Linked DNA regions of Homo sapiens: all the other regions are reported to be linked to region 6. The links are microRNA targets in miRTarBase. Many come from high-throughput screens and were not tested one by one. Region 6 holds a microRNA gene; each other region holds the end of a gene's coding sequence.

Region 1 (4,092 bases), not on the chromosome of region 6:
CTGGTCCTGTCCCTTGCCTCCTCACAGTCTGTCTGCCTGTTGTCGTTATTGATGCTCCTCTCCCTTGCCTCCTCACAGTCCGTCTGCCTGTTGTCATTATTGATGGTCCTCTCCCTTGCATCCTCACAGTCCGTCTGCCTGTTGTCATTATTAATAGTACTCACCCTTGCATTCTCAAAATGTACTAGTTTGTGTTGATAAATTATATGGTCACCCTACTTAGAAGGTACAAAGAAAGAATAAAAGAAGAAAGTTCTTCACCCCATCTCAGAATAACCAAGATCTTTATCTTTGCTGGGGTACTACCCCAAGGCAATTTTTTTTGGATACCATTTTTTAACCTTGACATAGTGGATACATCATTTCTTCCTCCATATATATTTTTCCTCCATTAAAAAAGAAACAAAAACTTTTTTATACCTGGGTTTTGCTCTTGATTTAGCTCTCAAGGTGGTCCTTGTTTACTTTTTAATAATCACTGCTCTTCATCTGTCAATATTTAATTGGTATGATTTATCCCAAAATTGTTTATAGAAAGTCAGTTTTTTGTTTTCAACTCTAGATCTTTGTTCCTGTTCCTCGAGCCTGGTGGTCACCCTCTGGCTTCTGCTAGGCAATCTGTTTCCTCTGCTGGCTGGATTTCTTCTGTGTATATGGCACTAGGAATGGAAAAGTGGATCTTCAAGATATTCTTTTATGTTATGTTCTTGTGAACAAAGCACAAAGTTTGAGTGAGTGCCAACCTATGCAGATGGTAGAAGTGGCATTCCTGGCTTTGGCTTGGAAGAATTGACGACCATCAGACCTTGAAGCAGAACTTCACAGCAGCCTGTCCTCATCAGCAACCCAACCACCTTCATCAGCAACCCAACCACCTTCATCAGCAACCCAACCACCTCGTCAGCAACCCAACCACCTCGTCAGCAACCCAACCACCTCGTCAGCAACCCAGCCACCTTCATCAGCAACCCAACCACCTCATCAGCAACCCAGCCACCTTCATCAGCAACCCAACCACCTCATCAGCAAACCAACCACTTTCATCTGCAACCCAACCACTTTCATCAGCAACTCAACACCTTCATCTGCAACCCAACCACCTTCATCAGCAAACCAACCACCTTCTTCAGCAACCCAACCACCTCATCTTGGAGAAGGAGAAGGAACTGCAAGCCACCAAGTCTTCATTTTTCAGGGTTTGTAATCTTCCCAAAGTTTTCCTTTGAAAATAGGATAATGGGTGGAATTTTCAGAGTGATTACATACCTCAACATTTTTATTAACATACAACAATGGGAAAGTTCATCATCCATATACTGCAGTCACTTAAACAACAGCCAATTATTGCAAGATTAGAATTGGAGATCTTGTCCTCAAAAGTATAAATTGTCCTTTGAGTTATAGAAAATAATGGAATTGGGATTTCTACATATCATTATTATACCTATTTTAAATTTAATGGCAGCCAGGCATGGTTCCAGCTACTTGGGAGGCTGAGGCAGGAGGATCGCTTGAGCCCAGGAGTTCAAGGCTGCAGTGAGCTATGATTGCACCACTGTATTCCAGCCTGCACGATAGAGTTAGACCCTGTATCTTAAAAAAAAAAAAATTAATGGCTGGTATATAGTAAACTTAATTCACTGTTCCCATTGTTCTAAAGAATTTTTTTAAATAATGTTTCATTAAATCTTATGATTTAACCGTGCTTGCCCTTTTTGCCAGCTATGTGGCAGTTTACGGCAGAACTGCTGTCAGTGTGCTGGTAGCCCTCTATTCATCCCTCCTCAGAGCCCAGCTTCCAGAACTGCTATCACTGTGCTGGTAGCCCTCTGTATTCATCCCTCTTCAGAGCTCAGCTTCTGGTTGTATTCTCCATGAGTTTAATAATGACATGAAAAAATGTGGAAGCCGAGAGAGTAAAATACTCTGCCCTGTAAAAACATGGAAGACATGCAAACAGAAAAAAAATAATTGTATTGTTTTAGATAATACTTAAGACAACTGTGAAACAACAAAAACACAACTATTCCTTTGTGACCGATGAAGATAAAAAGAAATTCTGGTAAAGACGGGTATGCAGTTTTTTAAAATGGGTTAAGAAATTGTTGCAGAAGAATTTCTAACATCTGAAAATGGTTTTATGTTTAAGAAGGATGGTCTGAATTGTGTACTAATAGCAAGGTATAAGTTTGGTGTAGAGCCTATCCAGTAGCGTCCACTGTACCACTTTTAAGTAAGACTCAGTCCACAGAAGCTGGAAGATTGCCTTCGCTTTAAATATCCTTTACCTTCTGCATTTGACACTCCTCCTGTTACTACATAGATTCCGGTCCCCAGAAGCAATTTTACACTGGTACTAGAGCTTACCAGCCCCATTTAGTAATTTTTAATGGCTAGATGAGGTTTAACAAGAATATGAAAAGAAAAAAGAAAAAATATATTCATGAATGATAGGCGATGCCCATTCTTTCTCTCAAGCTAATGAAGTCCTATGGCATTCTAACCACAACCCTCGGACAGACTCCTCCTATTCCTCCATGGCATTGTAACCACAACCCTCGGACAGACTCCTCCTATTCCTCCATGGCATTGTAACCACAACCCTCGGACAGACTCCTCCTACTCCTCCATGGCATTGTAACCACAACCCTCGGACAGACTCCTCCTACTCCTCCATGGCATTGTAACCACAACCCTCGGACAGACTCCTCCTACTCCTCCATGGCATTGTAACCACAACCCTCGGACAGACTCCTCCTATTCCTCCATGGCATTGTAACCACAACCCTCGGACAGACTCCTCCTATTCCTCCATGGCATTGTAACCACAACCCTCGGACAGACTCCTCCTATTCCTCCATGGCATTGTAACCACAACCCTCGGACAGACTCCTATTCCTCCATGGCATTGTAACCACAACCCTCGGACAGACTCCTCCTATTCCTCCATGGCATTGTAACCACAACCCTCGGACAGACTCCTTCTGTTCCTCCTTTCCTCGTCCTTCCCTGCTTTTCGTCCATTCAGCATATAGCTATTCAGTACTCCATTGAAGAAATTATGCTAAGTGAGCAAAGCAACATAATTACTAAGAATTAATTCTGATTATTTGGCACTAGAGCCAACAGCAACCCCAGCACAGAGGAAAGTCGCTTTTTTTTCAAATGCATAAATTTAAAGTATGTATTTGCATGCAGTTTTAAATGGGAGGTATTTGTCATTGTGAAAAGCTGGGAATCTCAAACATAGTCAACTTAACTAAAAAGAAGCTAATACAGGTTGAGCATTCCTAATCCAAAAATCCAGAATCCAAATTGCTCCAAAATCTGAAACTTTCTGAATGCTGACCTGATACTACAAGTAGAAAATTCCACATACAAGTACTTAACACAAACTTTGTTTCATGCACAAACTACTAAAAATATTGTATAAAATTACCTTCAGGCAGTGTGTGTAGTTATATATGAAACATGAATTTCATGTTTAGACTTGGGTCCATGCCCAAGATACCTCATTAGGTATCTGTAAATATCCGAAATCCAAAAAAAAGTCTGAAATCTGAAACACTTCTGGTCCCAAGCATTTCAGTAAGTGATGCTCAACCTGCGTAATGGTCTGCGGGCCAGTGCTCATTTTCTGCCTATGTTGTACATACTTTAAATTGTGTAAATTAAAAGTCAAAGCAAAGAGTCTATTTTTAAAGAAACTTACAATAATCTAAACATATACTTCTTATGATTATGAATCATCCTGCAAAGCTGAATGAAGAATTTTACCAAAAATACAATGAATTAATCATATATTTGAGAGTCACAGTGATAGGTTCGACTATATTTTGACTGTTGTGTAGTGGCACCGTTTAGGTAGTATTGTTTCTGAGCATGGTGCTTTTTATACTTGAAATATATTTTTGCTTTATTTTTTATTGATATAATTATATTTGCACTAATGGCTTTCTGAAGAAAATATTATAGATGACATTTTTTGTATATATATTTATTAAGCTTGGGAACCTGGTCGCCCAGTGTTTTCTCTGGACAAATGTGAAACTGGATAAAGTATGGATAAAGTCTTGAGTTCCTCAGGGTAAC
Region 2 (4,092 bases), not on the chromosome of region 6:
ACTGCCTGGGGTTGATGACATCTGTGTGTGCCCCACTTGAACCTCAGATGAGTGCCCTGGGTTTTATGACCTGGGGGTTAGAAGGGGAGGTACTACATGACTCCTTGGGCTAAAGCATTGAAGGACGTCCTGTCTTTAGGGAGGGACTGGAACAGAACTTGAGCTGTCCTTGGCCATTCATTTGCTATCCCAGGATGTTACATTCCCAGCACATTCTACAGTTACTCTTGAAAACTACAGGCAAGACAGTGAGACAGAGCTATCCTGCAACTACCCACCAATCTGACCAGATATTTTGTCTTCTTTATGCTTTTAAACTATCATCTTATTTCAGGCTTTGGACTATAATGTAAAATTTTATGAATAGCTGCTATTCAGAAAAATCATTTTGTATTTCTATGTCCCATATTCCTCTTTTTACCTGTTTGTTCACTGAAGTACTGTTATATAACTTCAAGTAAAATTTACTTTTCTGTCTCTTTTTTATCTTTTCTAGTGGACAGTTTCATAAAGCATAACATGAGTAGAAGAATCTACTGCCAATAACTGTTTATTATCTGCAATCAAGTGGGCTTCATCAATTTAATTTCTTCTCTTTGAGTAAATGAAGATTCAGACTTTGTAATATTATTGCCCTTAAGTGCAATGCTAAAAAAACGTTGATTTTCAAGCTTAGAGAATGGCTAGACTTTTCATTAAATACTGATTTTCCTACATTTGCTCTTCTGCAGTTAGTGGGTGATTTGCTATTTTTCTTAGTAGTTAAAAAATGGAACTAAATAGTGAATATACATACACTGCATGTAAACATTCTGCATATACCTCTAAGATTAAAATTCGCAGTTGTCTTTTCATCCTTTATAAAATGATCTAACTACTTATATTTGTGCTGCATCGCGTTACATCTGTTTTTATTTCACTATGAAGATGTTTGATTAAACTTATGGACTTAGTGCCTTTAAACTGATCATCAGGGAGAATCTTGAAAAAATCATTTGAAGGGCTGATGTGAAGGAGCACTGTAAATTTTTATAACTTAGTAATGAGTATTCTTAGGCAGATGTAAAATTTTTTCCAATTTATTTTTATTTATGTAGCTTATAAAATTAACATACCCTGTTTTACTTTATGATAAAGGATTTTTTGTTTGCTGAATTTAAAATTATATATTAGTGATACCATCAGAGGGCAGTGATGTTCTATTGTATATTAAATTCAGCTCTGTAAGGATCTTTGTAGTAATTGAATGAGTTAAACTAATAATCTGGATGGGTTATAATGAGTAGTAATATATTTGTCCATATTTCATAAGTAGTGTTAATCTTGTGTACTTATTAGAGAACGATCATAAGATTTATACAGATGTGAAACTGCGAAGGCAAGTATGAATGTATGAAAAAAACATGTAGGTACTGTACTTACAAAAGGTCTACTTCAGATATAAAAATATTAGGTAATTCTATACAATGCATAGTCATAAACCTTAACATTTTTGTTCATTAGAAACATGAATTTTATAGCATTTTTTGTTTCTCCTATATAATACACTGAAATAAAAGAATTTGTGTTAGCTATTAAGGCTGATAGCTCTTTTAAATGGCAAGGCCACATGTTGAGCCCTAAATTAAAATTTGCAGATATTAAGTGCTAATAGAAATTTTAAGTTAAATCGACCAAGTTCACTTGCTTTACACAAAGGAAACTGAGCCACTATCTTCATCTACCCCTCCAACAAAAATTATGTTATACTGCAGTGTATTGTACATGTTAATTTTTAAAAGTTTGAACTATTATATAATACAGGTCTCTTGACTTCTCATGGAAAAATTATTTTTTCTATTATGGTGTGAAATATTGTGTGAATATCTAGGCAAAACATAACAATTTGGCTCAATTTTCTTCTTTAGAGGATTCGTGCTGTTTTTGTTCATAAAGGGTAGTGAAATCATTGAACTATATTTTAGAATGAAAATTTTTGATTTTATTAAAATGATTTTTTCAAGGCAGAAAGTAAAAGGAATGATTGATAGCGGAGTGCATATAGAGCTAGAGCATATCATCCTTGAACTCTGCAAATCCTTTCTTCCATTTTAATATAGCAAGAACAATTTTGTCTTTACTACATCTTAAAGAATTAGAACTTGGGTTGGTGTAAGTGACTTACTTCCAGGGAATCATGCCCTATTTCTACCAGCAGGTCATACCCAAATGTCACACTATCTATTGTTAACCATGAATGATATTCAGATCTATTACTTTTCGTGAAAAGTGGAACATGTTACTTCCAACCATGGCCTGTCACCGTGAGTGTGATCAGCTTTCTCCAAAACCACATGGGTCGCAGGAGCTAAGGGGTGGTACCCAAATGTTAGGAACAGTGTTAGGAAAGGGCAAGGGAAAAGAAGTGACTGGATGTCTTATGAGAAACCGGTAAATGACTAAAAAAAAAAGCAAATGACTAAAAACATGACTAAAAAATTATATATATATATAATATATATATTATATATGTGTGTATATATATACACATAATATCTGCAAATTCTAATTTATATATGTGTGTGTATATACACACACACACATGCACATACACACATACGTCCAGACATCTCCCTCATAAAATAACCATCAGTTTCTATGAAAACCTTAAGTGGAAGCCAATTTCCCATAGTAAATAATTTAGGAGAAAATTATAATGCTTAAAATGTTGCTCAAACCCCTGACCTATTACTAAACTATAATTGGAACAGTAAAATGCATATATGTAACTATCATATCATGATTTAAAATTGCTTAAACCATTGCTGCTTAATACTAATCAAACTTAACGGCTGCTAACAAAAGTTGTGAATTATTACACGGCCTCTTTGTAACGTGCTGCATGTTTTTTAAAACATCTCTGTGTTTCTGTTTGTTCCACTGCTGGTATTTGGAATGTAATTTAACAGTTCTCACACATGGTTTGGTTATAAATTCTGTATTGCCTTTTAGGGATATAAATATACATTTTTTTCTATGTAAAAATTAGCTTTAGCTGTCTCTTTAACAAAATTTTATCTTTACTACATCCTAAATACTTAGAACCTGAGTTGGTGGTTAGGGAAACCTCAGGAACATTTTAATCACATTGGGATTCAGAAGAGCAACAGAACCAAAGGTTGTTTGGTGTGTTCATACAATCCCTGGATTTATAGGTGGATTTTCTATAAAGGAAAAATGATGTAATTAGTATCCTGTTTTTTCCTAAAGAAATAATACTATCATAAAAATTCTGTCTATCCTTTGTACCCCAGGAAAATGGACATGAACTTTGAATTTTCCCTTTCTCCAAATGTTTGACTTTTTATTTTCACTGATAAGCATTATGCTATGTTCTTAGAAGACAAAAGCAGCTCTTGCCAGTTTTGAATAATTTCTGCATGAATAGACCAGTAAGAGGTAAGTAGCCATGACTGCCTATATGTGTTGAGACATAAGGTATATTTCTTTAACATCTCCAAGCAAGCATTTCAAATTCTCTTAACTACTAAACATGCTCTAAGCTAATTCAAATATAGTATTGTGGCTTTTTTCTTCAATTTTCTCAAAAGCTACAGACACAAGGCATTTGTATGTATAACAGACTTTGATGAAGTTTTGGTTCCAGTAACTCAAAACACTAAGTTTCCCATTTGATATGGCTTTTTATTGTTCTAGTCTCCCTCTTCTAGTTATGCTTCATCTTGCAAATATTGACTTTGAATGTGATAACTATTGCCTACAAATTAAGTATTCATACATTACTCCTGTGGATATCATACTTTTTTGTTATTATATCCTGAATTGCATTGGCTTTTTTTGGTTTTGTTTTGTTTTTTGAGATGGAGTTTCACTCTTGTTGCCCAGGTTGGAGTGCAATGGCACAATCTCAGCTCACCGCAACCTCTGCCTCCCAGGTTCAAGTGATTCTCCTGCCTCAGCCTCCCTAGTAGCTGGGATTGCAGGCATGTGCCACCACGCCTGACTAATTTTGTGTTTTTAGTAGAGACAGGGTTTCTCCACGTTGGTCAGGCTGGTCTCGAACTCCTGACCTCAGGTGATCCCTGCCGCCTT
Region 3 (4,092 bases), not on the chromosome of region 6:
GCCTTCTTACTTGGCTCTGGACACAGTTTCTCTTCTCTCAGCTAAGCTGTTCAAGGCCCACTTCAAATCCCATTTGTTCTGTGATGTCTCCTAGATAACAAAGCCTCCTAGCCCTCCTCTGAATGCCTAGAAATTTTCCAGGTTGTTACACAATTTAATAATGTATTTATTTTCTGTTATGGATTTATTATTATTTCAAATTAGCTCATTGTTAAAAATCTTTATCTGGATTATTAGCTCTTCTAGGCCAAGGATCAGCTCTTATCATTTTATTTTCTCCTTCCCTGAGTTTAGCATAGGGCTAAACATCCTAAGTAAATAGAATAATTTAATGCATCTCATAGCAGATCAATATCAAGCCACCATGATTATCCTTAGTAGGGTTGGGATGCCTTGGGTGTAGATAAAGGTAGGAATGTGGACTAGTGGAGAGGCTGGTAGCAGGGGACTTTGGAAACAGAGAATTGCTACTAGGAGAGAAAAGGACAAGAAACATGCCCAGGCCGTCTCACCAAGTTGCAACCCCTGAATGATTGCATCACGCTACAAAGCATGAGAATTGTAGCTAACAGCTGGTGACTAATACTTCGTTTTCCTTTTAATGCCTTCACAGGGTCAGCGCCAAACTGGAGGGGAATGAAACACTAAAAGTTGTAGAACTCGACAGAAGAGTGAACACCACTTTCTAAAGAGGCTGCCTGCACCCCCTCCCTTTCCCTTAACTCTACTTTTACATCCCCAAACCACCTTTGTCATCAGCTTTTCCTCTTTGCCACTGGATCTTCATGGAGACATGGGCAAGCATTAGTGGCTTCAGATTGGAGACCAGCCTGGGACTTCCCTGCAGTGAGAGAGCATCTCCCCCTGGTCCATGCCCCTCCTGTGCAGAAGGGAGCCTGCATCCCTCCCTTCCTTTCTCTTACTGCCATAGGAAATTATTTTAGGGGTTGGAGGTGGGACAAGCAGGCTTGTTTCCACCAATAGTGCCAAAAAGATATTGCCTAATGTGCACCTGTGAGGTGTAACCCCCCGCTTTGGAGACGAGATGGCTCTTGTTCAGTCAAGACCCCAGACTCTGGCCACAAAAATGCCATAATGCCTGTTGGTATTTGGCAAAGCACTGACCCGTGTCCTCCGTTGCTCGCACTGGGGTCTCTGGTGTGAACACCCCCGACAGCAGCCCTCCGCCCACTCTGCCCCCTGGGAGCCCTCGCTGGATCGTCTCGTCTCCTGCAGCAGCACTGGCAGGCGAGGGCTCTCGTTCATATTCTCAGGCCGCAAGTGCAATGCCTGAGGGGATCAGGCTTTTCTACTCCAGGCAAACCTGCCCCATCTTGTCGCTTTTAGGACCTCCCACAACCTGGTTCCCCACACATCCATAGTTCTGCCTCCCCAGCTTCTCCTCCCCAGTTGTAAATAGTATTTATTAGCTTGCCGAGGCTTCCTGCTAGCAACCACACTGAAGAGATCGATGCCTCCTTTCAAGCTAGCCAAGTTTTCTGCGAGCCTTCAGAGCTAGGAGGGCACCCTAGGCTCTGGGATCCCGTGTCTTTCCAGACAATGTTTTGTTTCCTTTCCTTTGTTTTTTCTTTTAACTGGAATAATTACCATTGAAAAAGAAGTTCCTTTGAGCATGTATGTGTCTGCCTCTAGGATGAGCTCAGAGCGAGAGATGACACAATGCCTCACTCAGGCCCCGGGCTCCCTGGCCACAAGCTTTTTCTATCCTGTTTTCATGACAGAGAAGGGGAAGCCCTGTTCTGACAACAGACATTTCAGACAACCTTGCTGGCTTTCCACACCTGCCTGGCCCCCTCCTCCCTCCACACTTCCACTTTGTCCTCCTCGTCCCCTACCTCAACAAAGCAGGGTGGGGTAGGTGACATTTGTGTATCCACATTCTTACCTTTGGTAGTCAGGTTTGGCTACTTTGCAGCTCGCCCAAAGAGATACAACCTAATCCCCAACCTACTTTTAGTTTTTTTGTTTTTTTTTTATGGTTAAAAGTAACTTTTGTAGTTTAAAAAAATCTTTCCTCTTTCATATAAATAAGAAGTGGAAATTGCCTTTTTATTGTGTAATGTAGAAAACCCTCAAGTGTTTTTTCCGAGCTTGGGAAAGATTTTGTGTAGGAAATGTGCATAGAGTTTGTATTTTATTTTTATTAGCAGCTGAAATGCCTTTGGTTTTGGCTTCTCTCTCTCCCTCTCTCTCTCTGTCTCTCCTTCTCTCTCTCCCCCCACCACCCACCCCCACACACGTCATCTGCATTGTTATTGGAGCCTGTACTTAGAGGGATTAAGCCCACACCCTGGCTTCCATTCCATATCAGGTACAGGATTTGATGTTATTAACATTTGTCGTCATACCTCATAAGTCGGTCCCTGCCTTGTCTGTCTAGGCCCATTTGGGGCTCCCTGTGAGTGATTCCCCTCTCTCTGCTATGCTGGAGACGGTTCCAGCCTGGAAAGCGGCCAAGTTCATCTTCTCACTGTGAGTGGAAGCTGGATCGGGCCCCCGTAGTCCTGGCAGCCCTGTTGTCTGGAGGGTTCTTGTTGTCCCTCCCATTAGCCAGGGCGGAGACTGTCTGAGCTGTGCAGGAGGAGGGTTGCTAGTAGGTTCTGCTTCTGCTTCTCTCTGCTCCACTGTCTGCAGCCCAGATCCTGTTGGGCCTGGCTGGTGTCTGGTAACCATGGGCCTCCACTGACCCATCCCTCTCTTTTAAACTGTCAGGTCATTATCAGGCATAGGCAGCCTATAGGGCCCAAAGAAGGCAAAAAGATAAGATTTACTCAAGTAGCATTTGGGCAATGAGGAAGGAAAGGTTTCAAATTTAGGGGCAGAAGTGAGAGAATGAGCCAACCCATGTACCTGCTGCAACTGAACCAGACTGGGTTTTCAAGGCTCCCAGACGTAGAGTAGGAAACGTGCTCTTCTAAATGAGGAGGGAGAAGATAAAGGAAACTTCTAGCCCCTGTCCTTAGTGCTTTGAGGATTTTATTTTCTCCCTTACTACGCTTGCTTGACGTCACTCTCTCTCGACCTCCAAACAGCAGGACTCTTTCTCTGGGAAACCATCCTTCCAAAACGGAATCTATGTAGACAATGGGACGTTAGGCAGAGAGCTCAGATGGCCCTTTTAAGGGGGCTCCAAGAACCAACATCACTGCTCTTTTAGATAAACCTCTGCCCTCCACTCCTTGCTTGAGTGGGTTAAAGGAACTAACAGTTGTCCCTTTAGGAGGACAAAATGGGGTCAAGAGGACACAGAAGAGTTGTATAGCACCAGATTGGTTCCAAATAGTTAATGGATGTGTGCACATTTTCTGTTCAGGGATTAAGACCAGAATATCAGTGGATTTGTTTTCCCCACCAAGTGGCCTCTTAGACTAGTCATTAACTTATGATTAGCTCTAAAGATTTCAAATAGTGGCAGACAGTGTCTTCTGAATGTAAGTTTTGAGAAATACGAGTCTGTCAGAGCGGCCATAAGCCATAAAGAGTCAATCTCTTAATTATATTTTTCATCATGTAAACAAGTTTCCCATTTCCCTTTCTTAGATTGCACCAGTGAAGGAGATGTTTTGCAAAGATTCAGAGAACTAATTTTTCACTGGATAAGACCTGAGTAACCCAGACCCCCCACCGTGGTTCTTTTCACAGCCCTCGACTTTGCACTTAAAAAGGGATATTGTAAATGAAAGGCTGCAGTGCCAGTTTTAAGAAAGAATTTCTGTGAAGTGTGAGGACTCTGGAGTCTAGCTCACATAAAGAGAGTGTTATATAAAAATCCGACAGCTGAACTAGGTTGCTCTTTTTTGGCAGGGAGTGGGGATGAGATTTGACACCAATATGGGCAAAATTAGATAACCTTTTGGTTAATATAAATGATTTTGATTTGGAGGCCTAATTTGTAGATTGTGAAAGCAGCTTTTAGTTTAACTTATTCACAGACCCCTTATAATTACCATGTTTTTTTTTTTCTTCCTAAATCTCTTGGTTCAGCTTGTGAATCTTACGTGCCCGTAAAGTTGGGATGTTGAATTGGCTCTTCTTTGTTCTGGCAGTGAGTCAAGTGTCCAGCATTTTTTC
Region 4 (4,092 bases), not on the chromosome of region 6:
AAACTGAACAGATATGCAAACATATGTATGTGGTTCAGCTTGGGTTGCATGGGTTCAGACTTTGCAATGTGTAGTTTAATAGGTAATTACCCTTAACGCTTTTGCAGGGAACCCAACTACCTTGAAGAAACTTTAATTTTTTTGTGCTTCTAATTTGTCTCCATGTCACATAGCCAAAATATAGAATGTTCAAGTGTTTTCTCCTCAAAAGTATAATTACTAGAATATACTGGTTTTTAAAATAAGTTTATTTTTATAAATTTGTTTCCAGAATCCACATTCATCTCAATGGAAGGATCCTGCCTTAAGTCAACTTATTTGTTTTTGCCGGGAAAGTCGCTACATGGATCAATGGGTTCCAGTGATTAATCTCCCTGAACGGTGATGGCATCTGAATGAAAATAACTGAACCAAATTGCACTGAAGTTTTTGAAATACCTTTGTAGTTACTCAAGCAGTTACTCCCTACACTGATGCAAGGATTACAGAAACTGATGCCAAGGGGCTGAGTGAGTTCAACTACATGTTCTGGGGGCCCGGAGATAGATGACTTTGCAGATGGAAAGAGGTGAAAATGAAGAAGGAAGCTGTGTTGAAACAGAAAAATAAGTCAAAAGGAACAAAAATTACAAAGAACCATGCAGGAAGGAAAACTATGTATTAATTTAGAATGGTTGAGTTACATTAAAATAAACCAAATATGTTAAAGTTTAAGTGTGCAGCCATAGTTTGGGTATTTTTGGTTTATATGCCCTCAAGTAAAAGAAAAGCCGAAAGGGTTAATCATATTTGAAAACCATATTTTATTGTATTTTGATGAGATATTAAATTCTCAAAGTTTTATTATAAATTCTACTAAGTTATTTTATGACATGAAAAGTTATTTATGCTATAAATTTTTTGAAACACAATACCTACAATAAACTGGTATGAATAATTGCATCATTTCTTATTGTGTGCTCTTGTTTCTTTTAACTTGTACTTTATTAAACACATTTTACTGACGCTTTGCTGTATACCAGGTCTATAATCAGAAAGCAGGTGATTTAAAGGAGTTGGAGTTGTCAGGAAAAAGGGATGGTTAGAGATTCAGCTTGCAAAATTTGAATAATTAAAGATAAATGATATTAGCGCCGTAATAAGATTATACACAAAATGTTGAGGAGGCAGAGAGGACAGAGTGACTAAAGTTACCTACCAGTTTTTACTGAAGAGAGATCATTTTATGTTGGTCTTAGTGAGTTTTATTTCCCTAGTTACAGAGGGCAAAGGGATATTGCTAGCAGCTGCATTAGTTTGTGCAAAGGTGTGGAGGCCTGAAAGACCACAACCAGGTCAGTAAAAACAGAGTGATTGTGTGTGTGCCTCTGGTGTAGAAAGATAAGGGAGCAGCGGGGCTGAAAAGGAAGGTGGGGATTAGGCCCAGGCTGTGAAGGCATTCTGTGTTACCCTTATGCATTTGGGCTTCCTTCTGTAAACTTCAGGCAGATAGCGGAGCCCCTGAAGGAAGTGGCATGATCAGTGTTCTAGGAAAGTAACACCGGGGTCTGTGAAAGATGATTATTGGGATGAGCAGCTGTAGGTGACAAGGCCAGTTAGGAAGTGACTAAGAATCCAAGGTTGTGCATTTTGCAGAACCATTTTTACAGAGCAAACAGGGAAGTGGCCAGGCAAGGTTTTTTGCTGCCCCTAGTCTCTTCCTAAAGCTTTGTGCTTTCCAGCTGAACATTTCTATGGTTCTGAGGGGTCTGCTTAAATTCTATCAGATGGAATAGATGGCAGAGAAGAAAAGCAAAAGAAAAGTCTTCAGTAGAACAATCATTTTTAGTTAGAACAGTCACTTGATAATTAACTCCAACAATCTTGTAGGCATAGACCAAAGAAAGCAAAAATGCTTATGGAGGCAAGGCCTAGCCTTGCTTTTGTCCACAGGAATTTTCTTATCCTATTTCTCAAACCGTCCCCCTTATGGCTCCCCTGCCATCTGTCTTTCATCCTAGTCATGACTACATACAATCAGAAGAAAGGGTAGGGAAAACCCACTAATAGCAACAAAAAGCTCCAAGTTTCTGCATATATTATGAATACATAGCTCCATGAGCCCTTCACCTTGCAAATGACTCTCTTTTCCCACATCTGCTAGAATTGTGGGGTTTTAGGCCTTGTTTAGGCTTCTTGTATCTTTTCACAAGTGACTTTTTCTACATCTGCTAGAAATGTGGGTTTTTAGGCTTATTTAGGCTTCTTGTATCTTTTTAAAATCCAGTGCCCACTCCAAAACATAACTGGTATTTAATATTTGTTTCTTACATTACCAAAAGATTGAGAGCAGTGAGTTTTAAATAGCAAGGTGTTTTGCCTTCCCATTGAAGTAAGGTTTTTTTCAGCCCTTTTTCACAACGATTTGGTAAGAACCCTCTTGCAGAGATGAATGAATTAAAGTGGAGACACACAGTGGATAAAGCTGGTTTGCTTAGTGGAACGAGCACAGTAGCAGCTAGCCTTGATTAGTCCTTCTTCATCCTGTTTTACTCATGTAAAATGGAGATAAGATTACCTATCTTGCAGACTTGTGGCCTCTCCTACAACTCTGCAACCTCCCTCAAGGCAGGTAATGTCTGGTTCATTATTGTAGCCCAGTAGTGGACACAAGTGCCAGCAAGCAGTAGGTGCTGAATTAATATTTATTGAATAAATGAATGATTAGAAATAATGAATACAAACTACCTGGCACATGATAGGTGCTCAATGGAGTGTGGCTGTTTCTAAAACCCAGGTGATAGCAATAGGAAAACTTAAGGCATCAGAGAGATCTGTGTTATGACATGTACATCTATATAACTATGTTTTTCAAAAAGAATTTTTGATCTTTATTCTAAATTCATAATGCTTAGAGATATGTAATAGTACTTATACATTCTTCAGATTGTTTTGAGGAAAATCTCAACAATTACTGTAATGCCATTTGGTTTCTTCAAAAATTTTAAACTCTTGTTTTTCTTTCCTGATTGAGCATAACATAAAGTTAACACAGCATTGAAAAACCCAATCATGAAACAGTTAATTTTAAACAAATATAAAATTACCTGGATGGCTTCTATCTCTAATTGATGCAAATATTCTTTAGTCGTTGCCTTAAAAACCATTAAATGTACTTATTGCAAGCTACGTTACAACAAGAACAGAAATCCCCTCATCTACCTAAGGTGTATTGAATGTTGAAAAGTGGAAAATACCTAATTTTTCCACTGGCAACTTCACCTCAGTGTCATAAATAGCATTGCTTCCTCCTTTCCACACTTAACCTAGGATCTTGGTAAGTTAAACTTTTATAATGAAAGGACCCATGAAAGTAGCTAATCTCCTATAATACATACCTTAGTTCCCAAATAAAGAAAAAAGGGTCATTTTTTAGGAAAGAATTATTTGTATACTGTCAATTGAAATATTTCCAAAGCATGTTTTGAGATGCCTTACTGGAGCCCTTGTGAAATAATTGCTTAATTTTCATTTATATAGGTAGAATTTTATTCTTTGATATGTGGTAAAAGACTGAAATTTGGGAGATAAGTTCTCTTCAAATGAACAAAACTCAGTGGCATGATTTGACACCAAGTAAGTATCCCTCAAAGAAGTGAATACTTTTTTTCTTTTTAACAATACTTTGGTAAACATAAGAACCTCTGTGAAAAGGTCGTATTCATGAAAACCACCAAGAAATATTAAGTGAGTGCTTACTGTGGACAAGGGACTATGCTGGCTATATTGAAGTCTACCAAAAAAAAAAAAAAAAAAAATCAGACACACACTCTGGCCTCAAGGACTTCGTATCACTACATAAATACAAAACAGAAAATTACCAGCAACGTAAGAAAGGCCCAGAGAACTGTTCTGGAAGTTCAAAGGATAGAAATCTCCAGAAGGCATATAGGAATGGAATGGAGAAAAAGGTTGTAAACTCTTTGTTCATAAGCTAGCATCGTATTTTGCAAACAGCACAAAAATGTGATCGATTGATTGAATATTGAATATAATTTTGCTAGGTGCTATGAAGAATACAAAGATGTAGCCTATTAGAGCATTTCTCCTTAA
Region 5 (4,092 bases), not on the chromosome of region 6:
ATAGTGTTGCCTTCCTGTACTATATTAAGCAAATTATTAAAATTCTCAAAACACTGAAATATTTTTTATTTGTGTTTAAAAAATTCATTTTCAGGGCTGGGGGAGGGATAGCATTAGGAGAAATACCTAATGTAAATGACGAGTTAACGGGTGCAGCAAACCAACATGGCACATGTATACCTATGTAACAAATCTGCACGTTGGGCACATGTACACTAGAACTTAAAGTATAATAATAAAAAAAGAAAAAAAGAAAGTTAGTTTTCAGTTATGGAAGGTTGGGCTTGTAATCTCAACTACTTGGGACGCTGAGGCAGGAGGATCATTTGAGCCCCGCAGTTTGAGGCTGTAGTAAGTTATGACTGCACCACTGCACTCCAGCCTGGGTAACAGTGAGACTCTATCTCTTAAAAAAATTATGCTGAGAATATTTTCTGAGTTGTCACATGGGTCTTGTGATAAACTAATAATGCAAACTTTTATTTTTCATTATATATAAATATTGGATTTATCCCAACCAAACTAGTTTGCAGGGAACCTCTGCCTTTATTTCACGGCTGGAGAATGAGATACAAAAGATGTCAATTTCCATCGTAAGAACTTTCCACAGTAGTGTTCTTTGGACATTCTCTCCCTTGTATTAGGCTCCTCAGAAATCTATCTCCAGACTGAAACCAGCACATTCTGATGAGATCATAGCTTAGTACTCAGAAAAATCACTACTCAGTGGAATTCTTGAAATTTTGAAACAACTGATTTTAGCATACAGAATTTCAAAAAGAACATACATTACAGCCAGAAACGATTGTTTGCTCATGAATTTTGATTATTGGCAGACACATTTGCTGTAGCGGCAACTGTGCAAGAGTTCATTTTAACAGAATAATATGTTCTGAAATACTCTTTTATAATCAATATAAAATTCTAGAATGTTAATTCCTATAGCAAGAACTTGTGACATTATAAAATGTGGTTTACCATAGAAAGTCGCTAGATTTCCCATGTTTTCTTAAAATTAAATGTACTAAAAAATCCAAATGTAATAGAAAAATGCAATCACATAGGTGCTTTAAACAGACATTTCTGAATAACACTGCATTCTAACTCATGAGTACAAAGAAATGTGTATGCTATTTATACATTTTCTTAGTGTTCCCTACCTTTGGACTCCAATCATTTTAACGTATCCGTATACTGGAGATTTGATCACAGTATATGGCACTTCACAATAACATTCCATGTCCTAATAATGTGAAATGCCTGTATACAATCTGAGTATATTGTTTAGTCAGAAAACATCAAAATTAAGGATATAGGACATGGAATGTCTGTTAAGTGCTGAGTTTTTCTGACTAGAGTTTAATCTAGCCAGTGTTAATGTGGAAGCTGTATGCTTTTTTCATGGGCATGTTCGAATTTTTTCTTTCAAAATGTTTCTCAACTTTTTGATGTGACACTTTGTTTTCTCCCAAGTCACTCTAAGGGTTCTATCAACATCTTTCTTTGAAAACAGCCCAAAAACATATTTTTAAAATGAAAAAAAAATTCACAAGAGAATCAAGATTTGGTTTTAATCTATTATTTACATATTTGTAAACTGCTGTTAAAATGCTCTCAAAAATGTTATTTAGGAAGGCACAATTTGGTAGCATCAATTTTTTATTTATAGTTTTTTCTAAACAAGATCCGAAGAAACTTCCACTTTAATTTTCCCCTTGGAGTACTTAAAGTACTTCAAGGTTCAATGTCAAATGCAGATAAAACCCCTTCATTTTCAAACTTACTAAGTGTTAACAATACATTTGATAGTGAGCAGAATATGAAAGTACAGATGTTATCAAAAGAGGAAATTCTTATGATACTAGGTTCAGAGATTAAAGAATTTGAAACAAGGGCTTTCATGACTGGGGAAAATCAAAGCTTTTCTTGAAGGGAGTGGGCTTTTAATACTCGAGCTATTAATTAAATGCAGAAATGAGATAACATAGTTATCCTGAACATCAAAAAAGCAACAGCTAATACAGCTAATGCATTATAAATAATGTATTTCATAACTGAATTAGTAAAGCATGGTTACCACTCTAGGCTAGACACTAATCAGTATAACCATTTGTAGTTTCTAATTTTAAAAAGTTTGGCTTCATATTTAAATTTCATTTTACTATATATATATTACATATATACACACTGTTGTCTGTAACTCAAACTATAATGCTTGTCTGTAAAAAGAAGTTTTTTATTTCAGAGATGCTTAAAAGTCCCACTACTCAACCTTTTTCCTGTTTATAAAAACCAACAATTTTGAAATTACTTCTAGTGTAGAAATGCTCAATGATTCATCCAAAATTTCAAGCCCATATCAGTAGGTAGTTTCTCATAAAGTAATGTGCTGTATTTTCTAATATCATATGGTCAAATACCCTGTTCATTTATGAACATTTTTCATGGGCAAGAGTAACTGAAGACAATGGGATCAAGTTGAATATGTTGCTACTCACTTTGAATACTAAATTGTGCTTGCATCCTAAAAATTAAAATGAGCTGCAGTAAGAATTAGAATATAAACTGTGTTCATTTGTACCATACACTAAAAACTAAAATCCTAAAAATAAGAATGAAAATACCTTACTTGTTCATTGAAAAATGAAAGATGAGAAGCAATAACAATTGGTGACGATTTATTTTTATCTTTTGTTAAAGCTCTGAAATTGTAGTAAATCGCTAACTAAATTGAGGTAGAGGTAGACCCTAATGTTACTCCTTCCATGTGTCAAGTCTCTCACCTTAGGTCTCTAAGGTCACCTATAACTTAAGTCTCTCACCCTTAACTTAAATACATTTTCCCTCTTAGTACATAAGCATGATTCATTTTGGAATGTGTTGTCATGAAAGAAAAATTAAGATCATTCAAATGGTACTTTAAAAATTCTGAACTCCTAGCTAAAAAAATTCTCTTATAAAAATGTACACAAGGGCCGGGTGCGGTGGCTCACGCCTGTAATCCCAACACTTTGGGAGGCCGAGGTGGGTGGATCACCTGAGGTCAGGAGTTCAAGACCAGCCTGGCCAACGTGGCGAAACCCCATTTCTACTAAAAATACAAAAATTAGCCAGACATGTTGGCGCACGCCTGTAATCCCAGCTACTCGGGAAGCTGAGGCAGGAGAATCGCTTAAACCCAGGGGGCGGAGGTTGCAGTGAGCCGAGATTGTGCCATTGCACTCCAGCCTGGGCAACAAGAGTGAAACTCCATCTCAAAAAAACAAAAACAAAAACAAAAACAAACAAACAAAAAACACGCTAATTCAATCTTCCTTTTCTGAGAGTCTCAATTTGGAGAAAAATAATTCAATTTTCTATTTTGCTAGTAAGAAATATATTTGTTTCTCCTCCAATTGTAGAGGAAAACAAGGAAAGAGAAGATGTATGATGCAAACATCAACAGTTTCATAACGAAGACATCAGGAACATAACTAGGAGGGCTGAACATTTTACCATTCCTCCTTGAAGTTTACATATAAGCTTTGATTCATATTAAATTTTCTGCTAAAATAACTACTTCCTTTTCAGACTTCAATTCCATTAAACACACATCTATTTCCATTTTAAATCACATACAAGTGCTATGTGATCAGAGGGATGGGAAACACTAGGTAAGGCCTGGTGGGTGGTAACTTCTTCATGACTAGGTAATGGAATCACCTGTTCAACCTCTAAAGCATTTAAGTCAATGAAAATGTAATCTAGACATCCATGAAAGCCACCAACATAATTTGTGTAAGCAGGTTCACCACAAGCACTTTTCAGCTTGAAGAAATGTGTAAGAGACATATTGCATCTTTCCTCCTCCCCATTGGAAGCCCAGTCTTCATGATCCTCTGGAATGCTGCCATTGATGACAAAATGATACATTCCTGTTGATGGTGTACTATTAAAGTCCCCACAAAATATAACTGGTATGCCAGGATACAGATCACATGAAACATGTCTTATGTGAGCCAAGGCTACTGCCATTTGAATGAGGCGAATATACCCACCTATGAATATAAAAAACATTAATGTAAGTATTTTTTAAAGTTGTCTTTAAGTTAA
Region 6 (4,092 bases):
GTCTTATTTTAAATATTTCTGAGTGGTCTGAGGGAGGATATGGGCAATATTGAAGTGTCCACATTTATACATACTGTTAAATGCTTTGGGGATGTGAAATGCTAATAGGAACACGCTAGCATGTGAGAAGGCACCAGGAGTGGGCTAATTGGCAGAAAGGAACAGTGTATAGGCAAGAGCAGTGAAATAACTTTAGGGGAAAATAGTATGTTAAGCTTATTAAATAACAGCCTCATAGAGACATTGGGTCCCAAAACAGTGATCTCAGTATAACTGTCAACAACTTGCTGATGTTATCAGCCCTATTTGCTGGTCAGAGACAAAAAAGCCAGTAAAAACCTAGGTATTATTAAGAAAGGTATGAGGCACAGAAAAATGCCATCTTATCTTTGTATAAAACCATCTGAACCAAATAACTATTACAGTAATAATCTTGCCTCAAGGAGTCTGTTACTATCACTCACATGATTTTGAAAAGGGAGTGGGCAGAGTGTGTTATCTCTCTGTTTCATTTTTCTTGTTTATAATACATAGGTGAATTAGATATTCTCAAAGGTCTTGGAGGGGTCTAATTCTGGTTTCCTGAAACTGAATGTTATTTCTAGTTTAGAGAATCTGTTTAATTATGTTTATTAAATAAACTTTTCTAACTTATTCCTACTCTGATCTGTATATTATCTATTTTGTATTTAATAACATTCTAACTTTTTTTTTCCAGTGAAGGATGAGGATTATTGGATTTAGAAGTGCCAAATGAGCTATTACTTACTGCTTTTTGCTATCCGGTTACACTGGGTTAATCCAGTTAGTTGTAAGCTCCCATTTTTCAGCATTTTGCTAGCTGTAGATATTAAACCAGGCTCATGTGGGTAGTAGGGTGGGGAGGTTAAGAGGAGTATAAGCAAAAAGGAAAAAAAAAAGCTCATATTTTAGAGGAGGGGATTGAGAAGTTCCTTTATTGGAAGTCTGTGCATGGAAGTCCCATTTTACATCATGCCAGTGTCTAGTTCCCAATTCCGTCTATGGCCACGGGTTAGGGAAAGCCTGAATATTTGAAATAACCGAAAAGCATTTAACCTTTGATTTCTATAATTTGTTCCTCACCTCTCTTGATGTTACAGCCAGCAGCAGCCTGGAGCAGCACCCCCTGGGAAGAAATTTTACATCGGCCATTATAATACAACCTGATAAGTGTTATAGCACTTATCAGATTGTATTGTAATTGTCTGTGTATATGCCTGTCTCTCTTCCTGTTATCAGTTAGACTGTGAGCTCCTTGAGGGCAAGGAAGGTGTCTTCATCTCCAGAGCCCAGCCTGGCACATTAGTAGGCCTCAGTAAATGTTTATTAGATGAATAAATGAATGACTCATCAGCAAACATTTATTGTGTGCCTGCTAAAGTGAGCTCCACAGGCTCTGGATTGTCAGCTGTTTCTTCAAAAAGCATGTGGTCAGAAATTTGATATTTCTGTATATATCTTCCTAAGAGTTTCTCATGAGACAATGCCATTTTTGTGTTTGGATTTCAGTCCTTGATATTTACAGATGTTGCAACTGTTGCTATTGCTGACACTTGCTTTCTTGGTGGGACTTGAGTGATAACTGTTAGATTGGGGCCTCATCCTCAGGGCCCAGGTAATCATCCAAATAGTATTCTTAGATAGGACTTTGCATTTTTCTTTCTTTTTTTTTTTTTTTTAAGGGACAGGTTCTCACTCTGTTGCCCAGGCTGGAGTGCAATGGTGCGAACACGGGTCACTGCAGCCTCGAACTCCTAGGCTCAGGTGATCTTCCACCTCAGCATTCTGAGTTAGGACTATAGGTGTGTGCCACCACCCCTGGCTAATGTTTGTATTTTTCGTAGAGAAGGGGTCTCGTTATGGTGCCCAGGCTGTTCTTGAACTCCTGGACTCAAGCGATCTACCTCCCTCAGCCTCCCAGAGTGCTGGGATTACAGGTGTGAGCCACTGCACCCAACCAGACTCCATATTCTAAACCAAGGGTGGGCAAACTTTATTGCCCATGGGCTACCTGTTTTTGTAAATACCATTCTATATTGGAACACAGCCATGTTCATTCATCGATGTTTTACCTGGGGCCGCTTTTGCGGCCCAGTGGCACAATTAAGTAGCTATTAGGTTGGTGCAAAAGTAGTTGCTGTTTTTGCCATTAAATATATTGGAGACATTGTGGCCCACAAAGCCTTTGTAGAAAAAGATCTGTGCCCACTCTGGATCATCACTCGACAGTGATGGTTTCATTTCTCATTCCATTCACCAGACCAGAAATTCATATTTATTTACTTCATTTGTCATTGCTTGTGACAAGTCTTTTTCCTCTTTTACAGATAAGCCAGCTAAGACATGTTTTAAAGTAGAAGATTATAAGACCTCCCCCAGGGTCCTGCAGTCAGTCAGTTATACCCTGCCCTTCAACATCAAGCTTTGAACCTCTACTCTAGAAATACCTTTTATTATATTCAAACTTGAAGCACGTGGACATAGCATGCTTTGGTGCCTTCGTCCTTGCCCCCCTCCTTCCTACACAGTTCTTTGCAATGAGAATATGGGAAATAAGGACTTAATGTGAGATAAGGCAGAAAGGTAAGCTGAGGCAAATGTTTAGAGGGTCCCTAACACTAATTTTTAAATGAAGAAGTGGGGTGTCTGAAATACTCATTTATTTAGATGTATACAGATAGTGAGCCTAGACTTCCAAGAGCTTAGAGCCCCTCCCCTTGTGCCTCCCCAACTTTACATGTACTATCTTGGTAACCTGCCTATGAATACATGTTGATTCATTTCACTTCATTAAAAAGTCGGAGAGCTCAAAGTCATATTTGAGAAAGCTAAATCTAAAACAAAATGGAGGAAACACTGAATAGGTTCATCTCGTTGGATAGGATCATCCTAGGAATAAAATATAATAGAAGGAAAGGTCTTACAGCCATATTTTTAAAGCTGCTTGCTGGATTTTTCCCAAAATTGTATTGTGAAAGTTGTCAAACATACATACAGAAAAGTTGAAAGAATTGTACGGTGAAAAGCCATGTACCCAACACCTAGATTTTATAATTAACATTTAACTATACAGTCATGTGTTGCTTAAAGACAGGATATGTTCTGAGTAATGGATCATTAAGTCATTTTGTTGTTGTGTGAACATCATAGGGGAGTGTACTTATACAAACCTAGATGGTATAGCTTACTACACACCTAGGCTATATGGTATAGCCTATTCCTCCTAGGCTACAAACCTGTACAGCATGTTGCTGTATTGAATACTGTAGGCATTTGGAATACAGTGGTAAGTATTTGTATATCCAAACATATCTAACATAGAAAAGGTACAGTAAAAACGTGGTGTTATTATCTTATGGGACCACCATTGTATATGCGCCTGTGACTGAAATGTTACTATAAGATTCAGGACTGTTTGTGTTATCACAGTAACTCATCTTTGTTGAATAGGTTTTAAAAATCTGTCTGTCTTCTGTGTTAATGTCATCTGTATCTGACCCATCATGGTGCTGAAAAAGCTTCTTTTCATTCTTATTTTTGTCTTCTAAGTCAGCATGAATACCAGCACAGCCCAACTATGTGTAAGCAGATCTGTGCAGGAATGAGAGTCCCAGGGAGAGAATCCACGTTGTTTCTGAAAGAAAATGGCTATAGCTCACTGTTGTTTACTGGAAATAGTAGGGGGAAGGAAAGATGGAAGTCCAGGTCCAGTGTCATATACTGCCCTGCACCTTACTCACTTCTCTGCCTTTAGGGTAGGTGGTTTTCTGAGCAGCTTCTGCTTGGTTCTCTCCTTTAAGGCTTGCTAAAGGAGAAACAACAATGTCATATTGAAATGCCAATGAGGCAATATTTAGCATTAGAATAACTTTGGAATTCTAGCAAATGGAATTTTAATTTGGGCTACTGTCTAATAGTATTCTTTGAGCCTTTTCTGTTAGCAACAGCTGCAGTTTCAATTAGGAAGCACCATGAAATTTTGTTTATCTTTATCCATGGACATGATAATGGTAAATGTTACCTGTTTGTGTCTCTCTCCTTTGATTTAAACTCAAGGGTAGAGATGTGTTT

Evidence for each region. The annotated mature microRNA hsa-miR-374a-5p reads UUAUAAUACAACCUGAUAAGUG and lies in region 6 at 1,173-1,194, shown strand. An mRNA with a match to its seed (bases 2 to 7 or 8) in the 3' UTR can be bound and repressed. Matches are read on the target gene's strand: a 7mer-m8 pairs with bases 2 to 8, a 7mer-A1 pairs with bases 2 to 7 and ends in A, and an 8mer does both.
Region 1: miRTarBase lists LMLN as a target of hsa-miR-374a-5p. Seed matches in the 3' UTR shown: 7mer-m8 at 1,437-1,443 and 7mer-m8 at 3,968-3,974.
Region 2: the mRNA of SVIP is a reported target of hsa-miR-374a-5p. Seed matches in the 3' UTR shown: 7mer-m8 at 1,789-1,795, 7mer-m8 at 2,501-2,507, 7mer-A1 at 2,690-2,696 and 7mer-m8 at 3,809-3,815.
Region 3: miRTarBase lists CREB3L2 as a target of hsa-miR-374a-5p. The part of its 3' UTR that is shown has no 7-base or 8-base seed match.
Region 4: the mRNA of GADD45A is a reported target of hsa-miR-374a-5p. Seed matches in the 3' UTR shown: 8mer at 842-849.
Region 5: the mRNA of PDE12 is a reported target of hsa-miR-374a-5p. Seed matches in the 3' UTR shown: 7mer-A1 at 906-912 and 7mer-m8 at 229-235.

What each region holds. Positions count from the first base shown.
Region 1 is chr3:198,038,005-198,042,096 of GRCh38, forward strand. It overlaps LMLN (leishmanolysin like peptidase), which reads left to right. Exons shown (of 17, transcript NM_001136049.3): 17 at 563-4,092. The coding sequence ends at 663. LMLN-AS1 (LMLN antisense RNA 1) reads right to left here and starts at 1,463. Exons shown (of 4, transcript NR_046669.1): 1 at 1,445-1,463; 2 at 1,143-1,220; 3 at 744-854; 4 at 317-659.
Region 2 is chr11:22,819,538-22,823,629 of GRCh38, reverse strand. It overlaps SVIP (small VCP interacting protein), which reads left to right. Exons shown (of 4, transcript NM_148893.3): 4 at 497-4,092. The coding sequence ends at 511. Among named protein-coding and RNA genes, the nearest start is that of LINC02718, 7.8 kb to the left of the region's middle.
Region 3 is chr7:137,877,073-137,881,164 of GRCh38, reverse strand. CREB3L2 (cAMP responsive element binding protein 3 like 2) reads left to right here. Exons shown (of 12, transcript NM_194071.4): 12 at 614-4,092. The coding sequence ends at 689. Among named protein-coding and RNA genes, the nearest start is that of DGKI, 32 kb to the right of the region's middle. RefSeq lists enhancers at 1,067-1,800, 1,801-2,532 and a silencer at 1,548-1,842.
Region 4 is chr1:67,687,390-67,691,481 of GRCh38, forward strand. It overlaps GADD45A (growth arrest and DNA damage inducible alpha), which reads left to right. Exons shown (of 4, transcript NM_001924.4): 4 at 272-945. The coding sequence ends at 385. Among named protein-coding and RNA genes, the nearest start is that of GADD45A, 4.2 kb to the left of the region's middle. RefSeq lists a silencer at 2,237-2,531.
Region 5 is chr3:57,559,507-57,563,598 of GRCh38, reverse strand. PDE12 (phosphodiesterase 12) reads right to left here. Exons shown (of 3, transcript NM_177966.7): 3 at 1-4,037. The coding sequence ends at 3,595. Among named protein-coding and RNA genes, the nearest start is that of PDE12, 5.3 kb to the right of the region's middle.
Region 6 is chrX:74,284,427-74,288,518 of GRCh38, reverse strand. It overlaps MIR374A (microRNA 374a), which reads left to right and starts at 1,162; the gene lies at 1,162-1,233. The region is part of intron 1 of FTX (FTX transcript, XIST regulator); the gene reads left to right. MIR545 (microRNA 545) reads left to right here and starts at 1,310; the gene lies at 1,310-1,415. It overlaps LOC124905199 (a long non-coding RNA gene), which reads left to right. Exons shown (of 2, transcript XR_007068266.1): 2 at 1-654.